2 separate regions of the Homo sapiens genome follow, and region 2 is linked to region 1. A link means that fine-mapping ties the variant in region 1 to the expression of a gene that starts in the linked region. Tissue or cell type: whole blood. Region 1 holds a variant in brackets; the other region holds the start of a gene. All regions are shown on one strand. Distances are between the middles of the regions.

The links. PIP is the estimated chance that this variant, and not a neighbour inherited with it, causes the effect.
Region 2: PECR starts here. The variant in region 1 is fine-mapped to the expression of PECR in whole blood (TOPMed, PIP above 0.99).

The regions. Positions count from the first base shown.
Region 1 is chr2:216,053,008-216,061,271 of GRCh38, reverse strand. PECR (peroxisomal trans-2-enoyl-CoA reductase) reads left to right here. Exons shown (of 8, transcript NM_018441.6): 4 at 2,296-2,377. Among named protein-coding and RNA genes, the nearest start is that of PECR, 25 kb to the left of the region's middle. RefSeq lists enhancers at 3,025-3,084, 3,145-3,324. The variant A/G (reference allele first, on the strand shown) is at 3,188.
Region 2 is chr2:216,077,689-216,085,688 of GRCh38, reverse strand. PECR (peroxisomal trans-2-enoyl-CoA reductase) reads left to right here and starts at 3,880. Exons shown (of 8, transcript NM_018441.6): 1 at 3,880-4,071. The coding sequence starts at 3,948. It overlaps TMEM169 (transmembrane protein 169), which reads right to left and starts at 3,770. Exons shown (of 3, transcript NM_001142311.2): 1 at 3,710-3,770. RefSeq lists enhancers at 925-994, 4,119-4,168, 4,199-4,278 and a silencer at 3,669-3,928.

The DNA of each region.
Region 1 (8,264 bases):
GATGTGATCGTGGCTCACTGCAGCCTCCACCCCCTGGGCTCAATCGATTCTTCCACCTCCTGAGTAGCTGGAGGTACAGGTGCATACTAGGCTACTAACCACCATGCTCAGCTAATTTTTTTTTTTTTTTTTTTTTTTTTTTGGTAGAGCCGGGGTCTCCCCTTGTTGCCGAGGCTGGTCTCAAACTCCTGGGCTGAAGCCATCCATCCGCCTCTGCCTCTCAAAGTGCTGGGATATAGGTGTGAGGCACTGCTCCCGGCTCATTCCATTTTTGATTCTTGCCCGATTCAGTTTCAGAATTGGAAGATGCAAAATGATGATTTTAAAAATTTATGCCTTATTTATTTATTAATTGGCATTCTTTTATAAAGATGAGTTTTTCCTTTTTTTCTCACCTCCTAAGCCTTACTATTGATGAATGGAATTTATTTTTATTCAGTATTTCTAACCCATTATTGTCATTTTCTCTCTGATGTTCTAGTTGACCAGCTAATCTGGCTTCTGTGTCTTTTTGAAATGGCTCAGACCTGTTTCTCCAAGAAGACCTAGTTCCCTTTAGTAGGTAATAATAATTATTGTTTGCTTATTTATTTATTTACTTTTTGGAGAGAGAGTCTTGCTCTGTCACCCAGGCTGGAGAGTAGTGGTTCAAGGCTGCATAGCCCACTGCAACCTTGAACTCCTGGGGTCAAGCAATCCTCCCCGCTTCAGCCTACCGAGCAGCTGCTACTATAGGCACATGACACCATGCCAGGCTAATTTTTTAATTTTTCATAGAGACAGAGTTTTTCTCTGTTGCCCAGGCTGGTCTTGAACTCCTGGCCTTAAGTGATCCTCTCACCTTGACCTGCCAAAGTGCTGGGATTACGGGTGTGAGCCACCACTCCTAGCCGGGAATGATTTTTAGAAGGCGAGATTTGGGTACTACATGTGTTCACTACTACTGGGTTATCATTACTTGTAGACATTTTCAGAACTAGGAAATAAATAAATATATGTATATGGTGGTATTTATCCAGAAGCGGAAGGTGTGTGTAGAATAATTTAAATGGTTATTCTCCTTTCTTGTGCTAAAATCAAATGGTTTTATATGTTTTCATATATTTTTCATATATGTTTTCAAGCATATATAAATAATAAAATATTTAACAATGAGGTTAACAAAAAAGTGTAAGACTTGTATGCCACAAACTGCCAGACATTGCTGAGAGAAATCAAAGAAGATTTAAATAATGTAAAAATATTCAGTGTTTATGGGTTAGAAGGTCCAATATTGTTAATGTGTTAGTTCTTCCCAAATTGATCTGTAGATTCAGAGCAATCCCTGTCAATTTTTGTAGAAATTAACAAACTGATCCTAAACTACATATGGAGATGCAGAGGGCCCAGAATAGCCAAAACAATTTTGCAAAAGAAGAAAGTTGGAGGACTTAATGCTTCTTGATTGCAAAGCTATTTCTTGATTTTAAGACAGTGTGGTACTGACATAGGCTAGATATATAGATCAACATGATTATAGTCATTAGGGAAATGCAAATAAAAACTCCAGTGTGATACCACTTCACACCCACTAGATGGCTATTATCAAAAAATCAGACAGCAGTGGCGTGTAGAAACTACATCCCCCATGCATTTCTGAGAACAATGTAAAATGGGGAGGGACACTTTGGAAAACCATTTGGCAGTTTCTTTAAAAGCTAAACAGAGTTAACATATGACCACACAAAGATTTGTATTCATAATTGCTCCAAAGTGGAACTATCCAAATGTTTATCAGCTGATAAGTGGATAAATAAAACATGGCATATCCACATAATGGAATACTACTCGGCAATCAAAAAGGAACTATTAACACATTACAACGTGGATGAACCTCACAAACATGATTCTAAGTGGAAGAAGTTAGACACAAAAGACCACGTATTGTGTGATTCACTTTACATTAGATTTTCGAAAAGGTAAAGGCAAATCTAGAGAAACAGAAAGATGAGTGTTTACCTGGGGATGGGTTAAGCTGCAGATGGGTGTGAAGGAACTTTTTGGGGTGATGGAAAGGTTCTCAAGCTGGATTGTGGTAATGGTTGCATAACTCCGTATATTTATTAAAAGTCATTACATTGCACACTTAAAGTAGATGAATTTTATGATGTATAAATTTTACCTCAGTCAGGCTTTTTATAAGGAAATGTAAATGGACGTGTAAAACATATCAAACAGGCAGTGTGCTGAAACAAGGTATCAGGAGGGCCAGGATACTTTAAAAATTTAATGATTGAGTTTGCCTCTATCCTGCAGTTTACAGCTCCTGGATGAAAGAGCATGGAGGATCTATCGTCAATATCATTGTCCCTACTAAAGCTGGATTTCCATTAGCTGTGTAAGCGTTTTTATATAGTTTTCTTTCTAAGTCTTTGAGTTTTGTCTTCTGATTGGGGGAAGCATGTTAGGGAACATTTCTTAAATCAAGATCATTAATACCTTTAATGAGCTGTGATTCTAACAGTTAACATTTTATTTTATTTGAACTTAAAATTCAAAGTACTTCTAAAACATTTTCATCCAGATGCGGACTGCCAGATTTACCAAGGAAAGGGAAAATAGTATTTGTTTTTTGTCTGATGTTCAGATTAAACTGGATGTCTTGTGTTTTCTTGGGCAACTCTAATCCCGATGTGACTAAACTGGCCATCACTGTCTAGGAATAGCTTATTTGTTAAAGTATAGAAATGAAACTAATCTGTGTTAATTTAGATTTGAATACCATTAATATAGCTACTTGATTTTACACAGGACTGCTAAGTTGTTCCTCCTAACAGATAATCCAGGATTTTTTCTCCAAAAGTTTCTAAGGTTTTGTGCCTCTGATTAGCCACTCTGTACACAGACAGCATGCCTCCTTTATGCAAATTTTAGTACCCTGCTCATTTCCTGGATTATGCAGAACTCCCAAACATGTATAGGATAAAAATAAAATTCAACTTGGCTTAAGTAAAAATCTAGGGCAGTGGTTCTCCAAAAGTGGCTTCCAGACCAGCCACATCCCCATCACTTGGGAGAAGTTGTTAGCACAGCAAATTATCCAGCCCCACACCAGATCTGCTGCAAGAGAAACTCTGGGGGCAGAGCGCAGCCGTCGTGCAAGCCCTGGAGGGGATCCTGGTACCTGCAGAGCCACTGCGGAAAGGGC[A/G]TGTTAGGTTCAGCCACAATGTTAGCAGGAAGCTGCCTCTCCTTTTGGTTTTGCTTTCTTCATGTCTGCGTACATTCTCAGGCAGGCTGTCTCTAGGTGTGGCAAAAGGCGAGTACTAGCAAGAGTTACAGGTCAACACTCTAGCTGTTCTTAACTCTCCAGTGAGAGAGTGCCTCTCAAGTCATGCCAGCAAAAACAATATTAATGGTGCCAGCAGGTCCCAGAGAGGATACTCATTAACTGACCCTGCCTGGTTATGTGTTCAGTCATTAACCAAAAACTGTAGAAATGAGGTTGCTCTGCTATGCATGGTCAGCCTGAGGAATGAGGAACTGTGGTCATCATCGCTCAGACATGGACTGAGAACAGGCAAGAGGTACTTCCTCAAGTGGAAATCAATGTGATGTTACTAAAAACAGAGTAAAAAATGGTGTGCAGGCCATTGATACCACTCTACCTTCTTTTCCTGCTCATTATTCTTTACTAAATGTATTTACCTATTTTAGCATCTTGGAAGAAATAATTCAGATTGTAGGTTCTTTCTGGCATTTCCCATCCTCACAGGCAACTAGTGTTAATAGTTTTGGGGGCATATCTTTTTCCTACATTTTAACCACAAATTTAGGATGCTATAAACACTATTCTGTATCTTGATGTTCTCAAATGAAGCAAATATCCTGGAGATATTTTCTTAACAGAGTCTAAAGAGATTTCTTCTTATTTTTTTATGGCTAATATGCCACTTTTATAAACCATAAGTAAGGAATGATTTGTGTAACCATTTTCCAGTTGGTGAGCATTTGGGTTGTTTCCAACCTTTTGTTATTACCAAAACCAAACTAAACACCTGCAGTAAGTAACATTTTCTGTACATCAGATAGTGTGTAGCCTAAATTGCAAGAGGTATAATTGCTAAGTCCAAAGCCAAATGCCTTTGTAATTTTAAGAGATATTGCCAAACTGCCCTTTAGAAAAGTTGTAGTTCCTTTATGAGTGAAATGTGTCCTCTTTCATGCATATGTAAGAAGTAATGAGAGTTTCTTTTCTTAAAATACATTTTTGAAATGAAATCACTGGCTTTTCTGATATTCGGTTGGCTAGAAAAAAAACACAGCTTGTCTTTAACATGGAAAAGAAGTGTTTCAGATACTTCTTGCTTTTGTTCTCTTAAGAATCGTTTCCTTTTCCAGTGGCCTTCACACTTTGGACCATGACTCATAGTAAGAAATTTTACATCTTGACCTAGTAAACACATATGTGTATATGTGTCTATAGGCAAAACAAAATTCGTGAAGCAAACATTCTTACTATGTATTGTGCACTCTGATTTTTCTTTCTTTCCTTTTTTTTTTTTTTTTTTTCTGAGATGGAGTTTTGCTCCTGTTGCCCAGGCTGAAGTGCAATGGGGCGATCTTGGCTCACTGCAACCTCTGCCTCCTGGGTTCAAGTGATTCTTATGCCTCAGCCTCCTGAGTAGCTGGGGTTGTAGGCACCCACCACCACGTCCAGTAGTTTTTTGTATTTTTAGTAGAGACGGGGTTTCACCATGTTGGTCAGGCTGGTCTCGAACTCCTGACCTCAGGTGATCCACCTGCCTCAGCCTCCCAAAGTGCTGGGATTACAGGCATGAGCCACCACACCCGGCTGATATTTTCAATTTTATTGTGGTCTACTCTGTTGTATTTTCTTTTTTTACACTTGCTGCTTATTACTTGCTAATTTTATTTCACTATTAGCATTGTGTTGTAATTTACAATTTGAAAGACATGGCTTTAGGTATCCTCTACAATAGAAGAGGAGGATGAATGTCAGAGATTGAGCACTCCTTTTTTTTAAATTTTAGCTCTCTTAAGAGACAAATTGAAACTGTTGGCTGTCGCTTGTTTACTTGACCAGTACAGGTACATGTGCAAGATACATCTGGAAATACTAAAATGAATCAGATACCATCCACACTCTGAGGGAGTCTACAACTAGTAGGGGAGCAAAGCATGAAAATAATCAGCTAGAGAGAGAAGGTGTTGGATATTCCAGTAAAGGTATTTGCAAGTGTGCAAGATAAAAGGAGCACAGAGGAGGGCAGCATCCAGGCGACATGTCTCAAAGGTGAACTCGAGTTTGGTGACATATGAGGAGGAGAAAGGAAGGCAAGTCAATGAGACATTTACTGTGTAAAGACACAGAAATTTGAGACACTGTGGCACTTTTGGGAACTACAAATAATTCTTTGTGATGATGGGTGGTACGGCTAAATGGAAATTAATACCTTGGAATGGAGTGGGAGTCACAAAAGGCCTTAACTACCAGGGAGAGGAGTTTGAAGTGCATCAGGGGTTCCTACACTAGAGCCTGTGGCCCTGGGGCTCTGGGGCTGTGCATCCAGGAGGGCGCTTAAATCTGCAGGGTTATCACAACTAAGGCATTTCTTTGGAGGATCTTTTTACTCTTAATGGTTGAGAAGGAAAACATTTATATTCAAGTATGTATTACAAAGAAAAGCTCAAGAATGATGAGGATTTGGGAGTCATAGTTTGGGGGAGCATTATCTAGTTGTCCTTTTTTGGGAATATTTATGTACTAGGTTTAGTCCTATTACAAGTGTTTTTTTTTGTTTGTTTGTTTTTTTGTTTTTTTGTTTTTTTTTTTTGAGATGGAATTTTGTTCTTGTTGCCCAGGCTGGAGTGCAATGGCACTATCGCAGCTCACCACAACCTCCGCCTCCTGGGTTCAGGCGATTCTCCTGCCTCAGCTTCCTGAGTAGCTGGGATTACAGGCATGCGTCACCATGCCCGGCTAATTTAGTATTTTTAATAGAGACGGGGTTTCTCTGTGTTGCTCAGGGTGGTCTCGAACCCCCGACCTCAGGTGATGTGCCCACCTTGGCCTCTCAATGTGCTGAGATTACAGGCGTGAGCCACTGTGCCTGGCCTACAAGTTGTTTTTACATTAAGTGTCTTTTTTTTTTTTTTTTGTAAGACACAGTCTCGCTCTATCACCCAGGCTGGAGTGCAGTGGTGCAATTTCTGCTCACTGCAGCCTCCGCCTCCCGGGTTCAAGCAATTCTCCTGACTCAGCCTCCCATGTAGCTGGGATTACAGGTGCACGCCACTATGCCCGGCTAACTTTTTGTATTTTTAGTAGTGACGGGGTTTCACTGTGCTGGCCAGGCTGGTCTTGAACTCCTGACCTTGTGATCCGCCTGCCTCGGCCTCCCAGAGTGCTGGGATTACAGGCGTGAGCCACCACGCCTGGCCTACATTAAGTATCTTTGAATAACCCCAAATTCATTTTTTAACTAATGACCAATTTACAACATCTATGACTGTAGAATTTGGAATAACTTGTGAAGTTCACCGTAATGGAATTTGACATATTTGACTCATATTCTGATTTTGATTAATTTTTCCATGGGCAATAGATATTTATTTTTTCAGAAAAGAAGTCAGTGGGGCTGGATGCAGTGGCTCACGCCTGTAATCCCAGCACTTTGGGAGGCTGAGGTGGGTAGATCACCTGAGGTCAGGAGTTCGAGACCAGCATGGGCAACATGGTGAAACCCCATCTCTACTAAAAATACAAAATTTAGCTAGGTGTGGTGTCACACACCTGTAATCTTAGCTACTCGGGGGGCTGAGGTATGAGAATCACTTGAATCTGGGAGGTAGAGGTTGGAGTGAGACTCTGTACCCCCTCCAAAAAAAAAAAAAAAAAAAGAAAGAAAAAAGAACTTAGTGACCTTATTTAACCTACTATCTCAGTTATTTCCTACTTTTCTTTTTTTTTTTTCTTTTTTTTTTGAGATGGAGTTTCACTCTTGTTGCCCAAGTTGGAGTGCAATGGTGCGATCTCGGCTCACTGCAACCTCCACCTCCTGGGTTCCAGTGATTCTCCTGTCTCAGCCTCCTGAGTAGCTGGGATTACAGGCACCTGCCACCATGCCCAGCTAAAATTTTTGTATTTTTAGTAGAAACGGGGTTTCACCATGTTGGCCAGGCTGGTCTCGAACTCCTGACCTCATGTGATCCACCTGCCTCAACCTCCCAAAGTGCTGGGATTACAGGCATGAGCCACTGCACCCAGCCTATCTCAGTCATTTCTTTCATAAGAGTCTAAAGGTCATCCAAATAGAACTGGGAGAAAAACAATACACCAGGAAGTAACTTGAAAAACACAAGTTTACCAGTTGAAAAGTGTGGATTAAAAAAATATATATTTTTGCTGATTTCTTTAGTATCTTTTCAACATTCTGATTCCTTCCATTTTTTAGGGAAGCTAGAGATTGCATTTTTAAGAGGCAATAGAGAAGGTCTTTTTCTACAACCTTAGATAACAGGCACTGAAAAAGAAAAATTACACAAATATAGGTTGAGCATCCTGATCTGAAAACTCAAAATCCAGAATGCTCCAAAATCTGAAAATTTTTGAGCACCAATAGGATGCTCAAAGGAAATGCTTTTTGGAGCATTTCAGATTTTGGATTTTCAGATTAGGGATGCTAAACCAGGTAGTATATGCAAATATTCCAAAATCTGAACAGATTTGGCCAGGCCCGGTGGCTCACGTCTGTAATCCCAGCACTTTGGGAGGCCGAGGCAGGCAGATCACGAGGTCAGGAGATCGAGACCATCCTGGCTAACACGGTGAAACCCCCGTCTCTACTAAAAATACAAAAAACTAGCTGGGCACGGTGGCGGGTGCCTGTAGTCCCAGCTACTCGGGAGGCTGAGGCAGGAGAATGGCGTGAACCCAGGAGGTGGAGCTTGCAGTGAGCCGAGATCATGCCACTGCACTCCAGCCTGGGTGACAGAGTGAGACTCCCATCTCAAAACAAAACAAAACAAAACAAAATCAGAACAGATTTGAAATCCAAAGCACTTCTGGTTCCAAGCATTTTGAATAAGGCATACTCAATTTGTAAAATGTTCAGTTGAGGCTGGGTGTGCTGGATCATGCCTGTAATCCCAGCACTTTGGGAGGCTGAGGCGGGCAGATCATCTGAGGTCAGGAGTTTGAGACCAGCCTGGCCAACATGCTGAAACCCCATCTCTACTAAAAATACAAAAATTAGCCAGGCGTG
Region 2 (8,000 bases), 25 kb before region 1:
ATGTTGGTCAGGCTGGTCTCGAACTCCCAACCTCAGGTGATCCGCCCGCCTTGGCCTCCCAAAGTGCTGGGATTACAGGCGTGAGCCACTGCTCCCGGCCCAGATAATTCTTAAATTCATCCACCCAACTTTCCCATCTCCACTGCTTCCCCTCTGGTCTAGGAGGCCACTGTCTCTTAACTGTGGTTCTAAAAAAAATGCTCCTATCTTCCAGCTTCCACTCTTGCTGCCTTCCAATCAATTCCTCACTCAGCAGTAAGCAACATCTTTTACTTAATTTTTTTAATTTTTTGAGACAGAGTCTCACTCTGTCACCCAGGCTGGACTGCAGTGGCACAATCTCAGCTTCCTGCAACCCCCACCTCCCCCACCTGATTCTCCTACCGAGTAGATGAGATTACAGGCGTGTGCCACCACACCCGGCTAATTTTTGTATTTTTAGTAGAGATGGGGTTTCACCTCCCAAAGTGCTGGGATTCCAGGCATGAGCCACCCAGCCAGAAACATCTTTTTAAAACATAAAGAAAATCAGATGGTCAGGCGTGGCAGCGCGCACCTGTCGTCTCAGCTTCTCGGAAGGCTGAGGCAGGAGAATTGTTTGAACCTGGGAGGCAGAGGCTGCAGTGAGCCGAGATCGCTGCCACTGCACTCCAGCCTGGGATACAGAGCCAGACTCCATGTCAAATAAATAAATAAAAATAAAAAAGAAAATCAGGCTGTTTTCTGCTTAAAATCCTCCTGTAACTTCCTACTGTTATACATGTGGAAGTCCATGTGGCCTAAGGACCTCCCCATCCTGCCACCCCATCTGTACCACCATAGTAGGGGTACTATGCTCCAATCACACTGGCTGTGTATTTCTTCCTCAAGAGCACCAAATGCTTCCAAATGCTTGAGGTCTTCTTAACTGCTGTCTATCTTGCTGCTCTGCTGCTCCACCCCGCCTCTTCCTGTGCCCGTTTTTGTTTTTTTGAGTCCTTGTTCAAATGTTTCCTCCTCTGAGCCCTTCTTGACACCCGAACTAAAAACTTGACTCCCTGCTCTGCCTCTCATTATTCTTTATCACAACAGCTTGTTTCCTGTGTAAGGCTTACCAACATTTGTCATTATTTATTTTTCTTTTACTTATTTATTGCATAGCTCTTCTACTAGACTTCAAGCCCTATGAAGTGGTACCATAGAAGTAGGCCAACAAATAGATGCTCGATAAATCTTTTTAAGTGACTGGGTGAAGTGGTAGCAACTCAGGAGTAGCTTATTTTTTGTGAAAGCCTGAGACTAAGGAGAAGTTTAATAAAAAGACATCAATAAGCTCCTTTATATGCCTTGTTATGGCACAATTGCTAGGTAGTTTTGCTTCAAGGTAGGGGCAGGACCAGATGCTTCACTGACATTCTCTCAGCACTGAGATTCTGGGAGTCTAAATGTCGAGAATCCCACAAGCCCCTGTCAGTCTGAGCTAGCAGCTGCTTTGCAGAGGGGAGAAAATAAAGTTACCAGGCAGATGGGGTGGGGGAGGGGTGGGAAGCTGAAGGCAGTCATTGCTAATGGGGTATGACAGAGCTGTGGGGAGAGGTTCGGGGGTGTGGGAGGACCTTGGCCACAGGAATGCCTTTTTCCCCAGGACAAAGAGGGCAGTGACGCAGAGCACAGGGAAGAGCAGCATTTGATTCAACCAAAGGAGTGGTCAGTGCAGCATGGCGTGGTTGCCTTCGGAAGAGATGCCTCAACCAGAGGCAGAACTAAAATTTCAAAACAAAGAGCTTCCAAGCAGCAGATCTATTGCTCTGCTTCCAGGCCTTTTGGCCTGGAACTTAGCGGATTAGTGGACTTTCAAACCCTGACAGAGGTCAGAGGCAGAGGCAAAGAGATCATGCCTCCTAATTTTAAACAAAAGATCGCTTGAAGAGACCCCAAAGCTCTCTTAATTGCAGGTTCTGCCTGGATCATGAAAAATCGCCTTCTGACTGTTCATCCTGCAACTTCCTTGCAGCTGAGGAATGGCACCTTGTCATCCTCAGTAGGCATAACCGGTTTGCAGGCCCCAGTCCCTGTTTCACTGGAAGACATCAGAATCCCACTCTCAGTCCGCTCAGCAGCCACACGGAAGCTGCAGCACAGCCAGCTTCCCACTGACCCACCCTGGCACACCTCTAAGAATCTATAGGTCCAGACCAGGGCATAAATCATGTTAAGTTATATCTTCAATAAAGTTATCATTTAAAAGAATTTAAAGTGTCCCCACCCACAAGAAAGAAAGTCTGGACTTCTCTTGAATAAGATACCCCTCAGAACTGAATCAATATTTCTTTTCCTTAAAAAAAAACACCTTGTCATTGGGATCAAACCAAGAGGAGTTATATGTTTCTGCAACAACACTTTGAGCTTTCCTGTTTGAATTTACTTTGTTTTAAAGGAGGTGATGGCGTTGTAATTTTAAAAATTTGGTCCTAACTACAGAATTGACTTAAGTAGTAGAGTTAAGTGATTCCTGGATAAACTATCTAGCAAATGGTAACCAGGAGATTTATTCCTTTCTTTAACGAGTGTAGATTTGAATCTGTCAGCAACAAAGATAGAGGGAGAAGTGATTCTAAAAAGAGATCAGAGAAGGACAAGAGGATGGAGCAACAGGGAAGTGTAGCTGTCCAACAAGAACTGCAGCCTCGCTGGTGGGTGGGACCTGGTGGAGGAAGTGATGGTCTGATTCCTCTGTCAACCAGACCCATTTCCAATTGGCTTTGTGAATCCTAGGTGGTAGGTCCAACAAAAGGATGATGGCATTTATTTGCCTTTATATTATTTTAATACCTGTCCGGGGAAAATGCAACACTCTGACAACAGCCTTAGAAATAGCATCCCATCTGGATTGTTAAGACCACAGCAACTGGCACATTCGACCAAGTTCTTAGGGTGAAGTCTCAGTAGGCCAGTCCAGGTGTAATCTCACTCTGGTGGGTTCAGAGCGGGAAGCAAGATGAAAAATAAGGAGCAGATCTGAATAATAAATCACTGTTACTGGGCACCATAACACAGACGAGAAATTTTCCCCATCCTCAGCGGGCTCACCCTCCTGCACAAGGAATGAACTACAGGACATGATCTCAAACACCTACAGATGCATCTTGCAGGAAGCGTGCACCCTTCAAGGAAAGATCCTCTTCTGGACTCGCTATGCAGCTCAGCTGAAATGGATCAGGTCTCAAACCTGGTAAAGATGATCTTTCCCCTTGATTCTTGGGTGGGGAGTGGGAGGTGAGACGGAGGTGGGCCTGAGTTTATTTTTTCAAATCGTTTATTCTCTTGGTTCTGTGGAAAACTGCAACCGCATCTCCTCTTCCCCTTCACTCTCTTTCCCGGGCTCCCTCCCGAAGGATGAAAGGATCTGAAAGCCGCATTTCTCCCCCTCAGCTAAGCCTGCCCTTTCTCCCCTTCCCAGCCAGCGGCACACAGCACCTGGAGCCACAGCATCGCCGACGTCCGACCCCGGCAGGCGGGCGCAGCGAGGGCGCCGAGCAGCAGCCTTTCTTTTTCCAGCTGCACTGGAGATTTAATTTTAATTAATCGTGAGAGCTTCAGCCCTGAGGATTGAATTTTTGAAATAGAGCACACCCTGCTTGTTTCTTTCTTCTTCTTTTTTTTTTTTTGCATTTCCCTTCCACCCTCCCCAATGGCATCGAAATTTAAAGAAACGAACGAGCAGTCTCACCCACACCTGCCCAGGGACCGACGCTGGCGGAGGTTGCGGACAGCCGGCGGGGAGCGGTTCTGCTCCGGGAGGATGCGGCTTTGCCGCGGCCGGCGGGCGGGGCGGGGCCGGGCCGGGGAGGGTGCGGGGTTCTGGTGGTCACGTGGGCTCGAGCACCGCCCTGTCCGCCCGCCCGCCTCGAATGTCCCTGAGACCCAGAAGGGCCTGCGCTCAGCTGCTCTGGCACCCCGCTGCAGGGATGGCCTCCTGGGCTAAGGGCAGGAGCTACCTGGCGCCTGGTTTGCTGCAGGGCCAAGTGGCCATCGTCACCGGCGGGGCCACGGGCATCGGAAAAGCCATCGTGAAGGAGCTCCTGGAGCTGGGTACGTGAGCGGGCCGCTGGTGCAGAGAGGTGGCTGTGGTGACCTGGGGTAACCTGGAGACGGGAGCCAGGAGCTCTCGGCGGGGCTGAGGGAGTGTGGAGCTGCAGAGCAAAGACGGGGCAGGTGTGGGCGAAATTACGACCACCAGGGAGACAGAAGAGAGCAGCTCTTCCTAAGGAATTGTGGAGCCACTCGTTAAAAACTGAAGAGACCACTCAGGCCAAAGAGACTGTGCCCCAGGTAGGCAGTAAGAAGAGCAGTGAAACATGCTGTGCAATTAGTTTTATATTCAGATTTAAAATTAATCCATTCTATATGCTTAATGTGAGTGATTAGGAAACGTGGGAAGACTTCATTTAACTGGAAAAAGTTGTGAACATAGTGAGTCTCTCATAGTATCTTCTCACATCTCTTAACCACAGCAAGGAAATATGCTGAATATTTACCTTAACTTGGGTGAAGGAAGGCCTTTGTAAACACATAAGTGAGGGAATAAACCACAAAGGAGAACATAAATCAATCTACCTGTATGAAAGTGTAAATCCTCATTGAATTAAAAAAATATATAAAGTTTAAAGGCATATGAAGAAAAATATTTGCAACATAAGATAAATTGTTTGTTGGTTTTGAGATAGGGTCTCACTCTGTTGCCTACGCTGGTCTCGAACACCTGGGTTCAAGGGATCCTCCTGCCTTGCCTCTGAGTCCTAAAGTTTTGGGATTACAGGCTGAGCCACTAGATTCGGCCAACAGCCTTATACATAAAGAGCTCTTACAAATAAAGAAAAAATCCAACACACTGATAGAAAAATTAGACTAATGGTATGGACTAAGCGTTCCAAAAGAAGAACTACAGACAGGCAAGAAACATATGAAAAAATAATCAACTTTATTGGTAATAAAATATGAAACAGTAAGATTTAACTTTTCTAACAAAATTTTGAAATGTTGGGAAAAATTAAAGTGTTGATGCAGGAATGAGAAGGCAGGAATGTAAATTATTACAAACTTTCTGGAAGGCAATTTGGAAAAAAAGATCCAAAAACCTTCACAATGTTTATGCTCTATGACAGTAATTCCTTTTTCAGGAATTTAAGGAAACGGAGTCAAGCAAAGATTTTCATGCAAGGATGTAGTCTTGAGTAGTGAAAAAATGGAAATTACCTAAAAATCCAATATAAGGAAAATAGTTAAATCAATAACAATGAAATATAATGCTTCCGTTTAAATATCTTGCTATTGGTCCTGGCGCAGTGGCTCACGCCTGTAATTCCAGCACTTTGAGAGGCCGAGGCGGGCAGATAACCTGAGGTCAGGAGTTTGAGACCAGCCTGGCCAACATGGTGAAACTCCATTTCTACTAAAAATACAAACCAGGCATGGTGGCGTACACCTGTAGTCCCAGCTACTTGGGAGGTTGAGGCGCAAGAATCGCTTGAACCTGGGAGGCAGAGGTTGCAATGAGCTGACGTCAAGCCACTGCACTCCAGCCTGGGCAACAGAGCGAGATTCCATCTCAATAAATAAATAAATATCTTGCTATTGAAGACTTACTTGGAGAAATGCATACCATATTATTGGGAAAAGTAGAATTCTAAACCTAATAGCATTCCAATTTTACTTTTTTTTTTTTTTTGAGATGGAGTTTCGCTCTTGTTGCCCAGGCTGGAGTGCAGTGGCGCCATCTTGGCTCACTGCAACCTCCGCCTCCTGGGTTCAAGCGATTCTCCTGCCTCAGCCTCCCGAGTAGTTGGGATTACAGGCACGCACTACCTTGCTAGGCTAATTTTGTATTTTTAGTAGAGATGGGGTTTCTATATGTTGGTCAGGCTGGTCTCCAACTCCCGACCTCAGGTGATCCGCCCGCCTCGGCCTCCCAAAGTACTGGGATTACAGGCGTAAGCCACCGTGCCCGGCCCAATTTTACTTTTAATAAAATATATACATGCAGGGCCGGGCACGGTGGCTCATGCCTGTAATCCCAGCACTTTGGGAGGCCGAGGCGGGCAGAGCACAAGGTCAAGAGTTCGAGACTAGCCTGGGAAAACATGGTGAAACCTCGTCTCTACTAAGAATACAAAAATTAGCCAGGCATGGTGGCGTGTGCCTGTAATCCCAGCTACTCAGGAGGCTGAGGCAGGAGAATGGCGTGAACCCGGGAGGCAGAGGTTTCAGTGAGCCAAGATCGTGCCGCTGCACTCCAGCCTGGGCGACAGAGCAAGACTCAGTATCAAAAAAAAAAAAAAGTATTACATATGCAAAAATGGACTGGAAGGAAGTTTATAAGATTTTTAGCCATTTTTCTGAAAATAATGTTAATTATGAGTAATTAAAATTGTCTTCGTCTTTTAAATATTTTTTAATGAACATCTAAATTATCTTTGGTTACGACTGTGTTTCCAACATCTGGCACAGTATGAACTAAAAAAAAAAAATCTATGTTTTTAGTTAAAAAAAAAAAAAAAAGCAAAAACATTTCCTAGTAAGGCCATGATGTAACCTCATCACCATTACTGCCCAGTTTATTCTCAACACCAAGCTCTATCCTCTTTCAGGAATATCTGTAAGAAAATCAGAATCAGTTATCAATTCATGCATAGGTCAGATACTAGGCTTCTCAGCAGATTCGTAGGACCCTAGTCCACTTTGAAGGATTTTTAATAGATTTTTATGTATTTGAACTTTCATCCTGTTGCATAAGTGTGCTATTTGAACTTTCATCCTGTTGCATAAGTGTGCTATTTGAACTTTCATCCTGTTGCATAAATATGCATTGGCCAAAAACTACACCCCTGGAATAAGGTGATAGACTATATTTTTCTTACCACAAACTAAAACATTAGGACATTGGTCTTGTAATCTTTTGGAAGACATGAATCTGTCTGAGATTCTGATGAAAGTGGTGGCGTGTCTTTTGAGAAAAAGACATCATATACTTAAAAATATATATACACAATTATTTTGTTGTATTGGAAATGGATTTCCTTCAGTGAAAGAATATTAAAAATCTTTTTCTTTTTTTTTTTTTTTGAGATGGAGTTTCGCTCTGTCGCCCAGGCTGGAGTACAGTGGCGCAATCTCGGCTCACTGCAACCTCCACCTCCCAGGTTCAAGCAATTCTCTGCCTCAGCCTCCTGAGCAGTATTTTTAATAGAGACGGGGTTTTACCACGTTGGCCAGGCTGGTCTTGAACTCCTGACCTTATGATCCATCCCCCTTGACCTCCCAAAGTGCTGTGAGCCACCGGGCCTGGCCATAAAAATCATTTTTATAATTACTTTTTCCTCTTTATTTTTTTATGCCAGAATCAATGGCTATTTCCACGACATTGTCATATTTTTACTAGAGATGGGGTTTTGGCATGTTGGCCAGGCTGGTCTTGAACTCGGACCTCCAGTGATCTGCCCGCCTCAGCCTCCCTAAGTGCTAGGATTACAGGCATGGAGGCCCCGCGCCTAGCCTCCAGTTTTCTTTCTAGTCAGAAGGCCACTGTTTTTTGTTTTTGGTTTTGGTTTTTTGGTGTGAACTATGTCTTTTTGGCATGAACTTTGAGGCATGGTTTTTAAAATGATGATATTTTTGCTTTTTTTTTTTTTTAACGAAAAATACAGGTGTTTTCTTTTTTACTTCATACTATGCCAGATGGTAACCAAAGATAATTTAGATGTTCATTAAAAAATATTTAAAAGACGAAGACAATTTTAATTACTCATAATTAACATTATTTTCAGAAAAATGGCTAAAAATCTTACAAACTTCCTTCCAGTCCATTTTTGCATGTATAATCCATATTTTTTTTTTTTTTTTTTTTGAGACGGAGTCTTGCTCTGTAGCCCAGGCTGGAGTACAGTGGCACGATCTTGGCTCACTGCAACCTCTGCCTCCCAGGTTCAAGCGATTCTTCTGCCTCAGCCTCCTGAGTAGCTGGG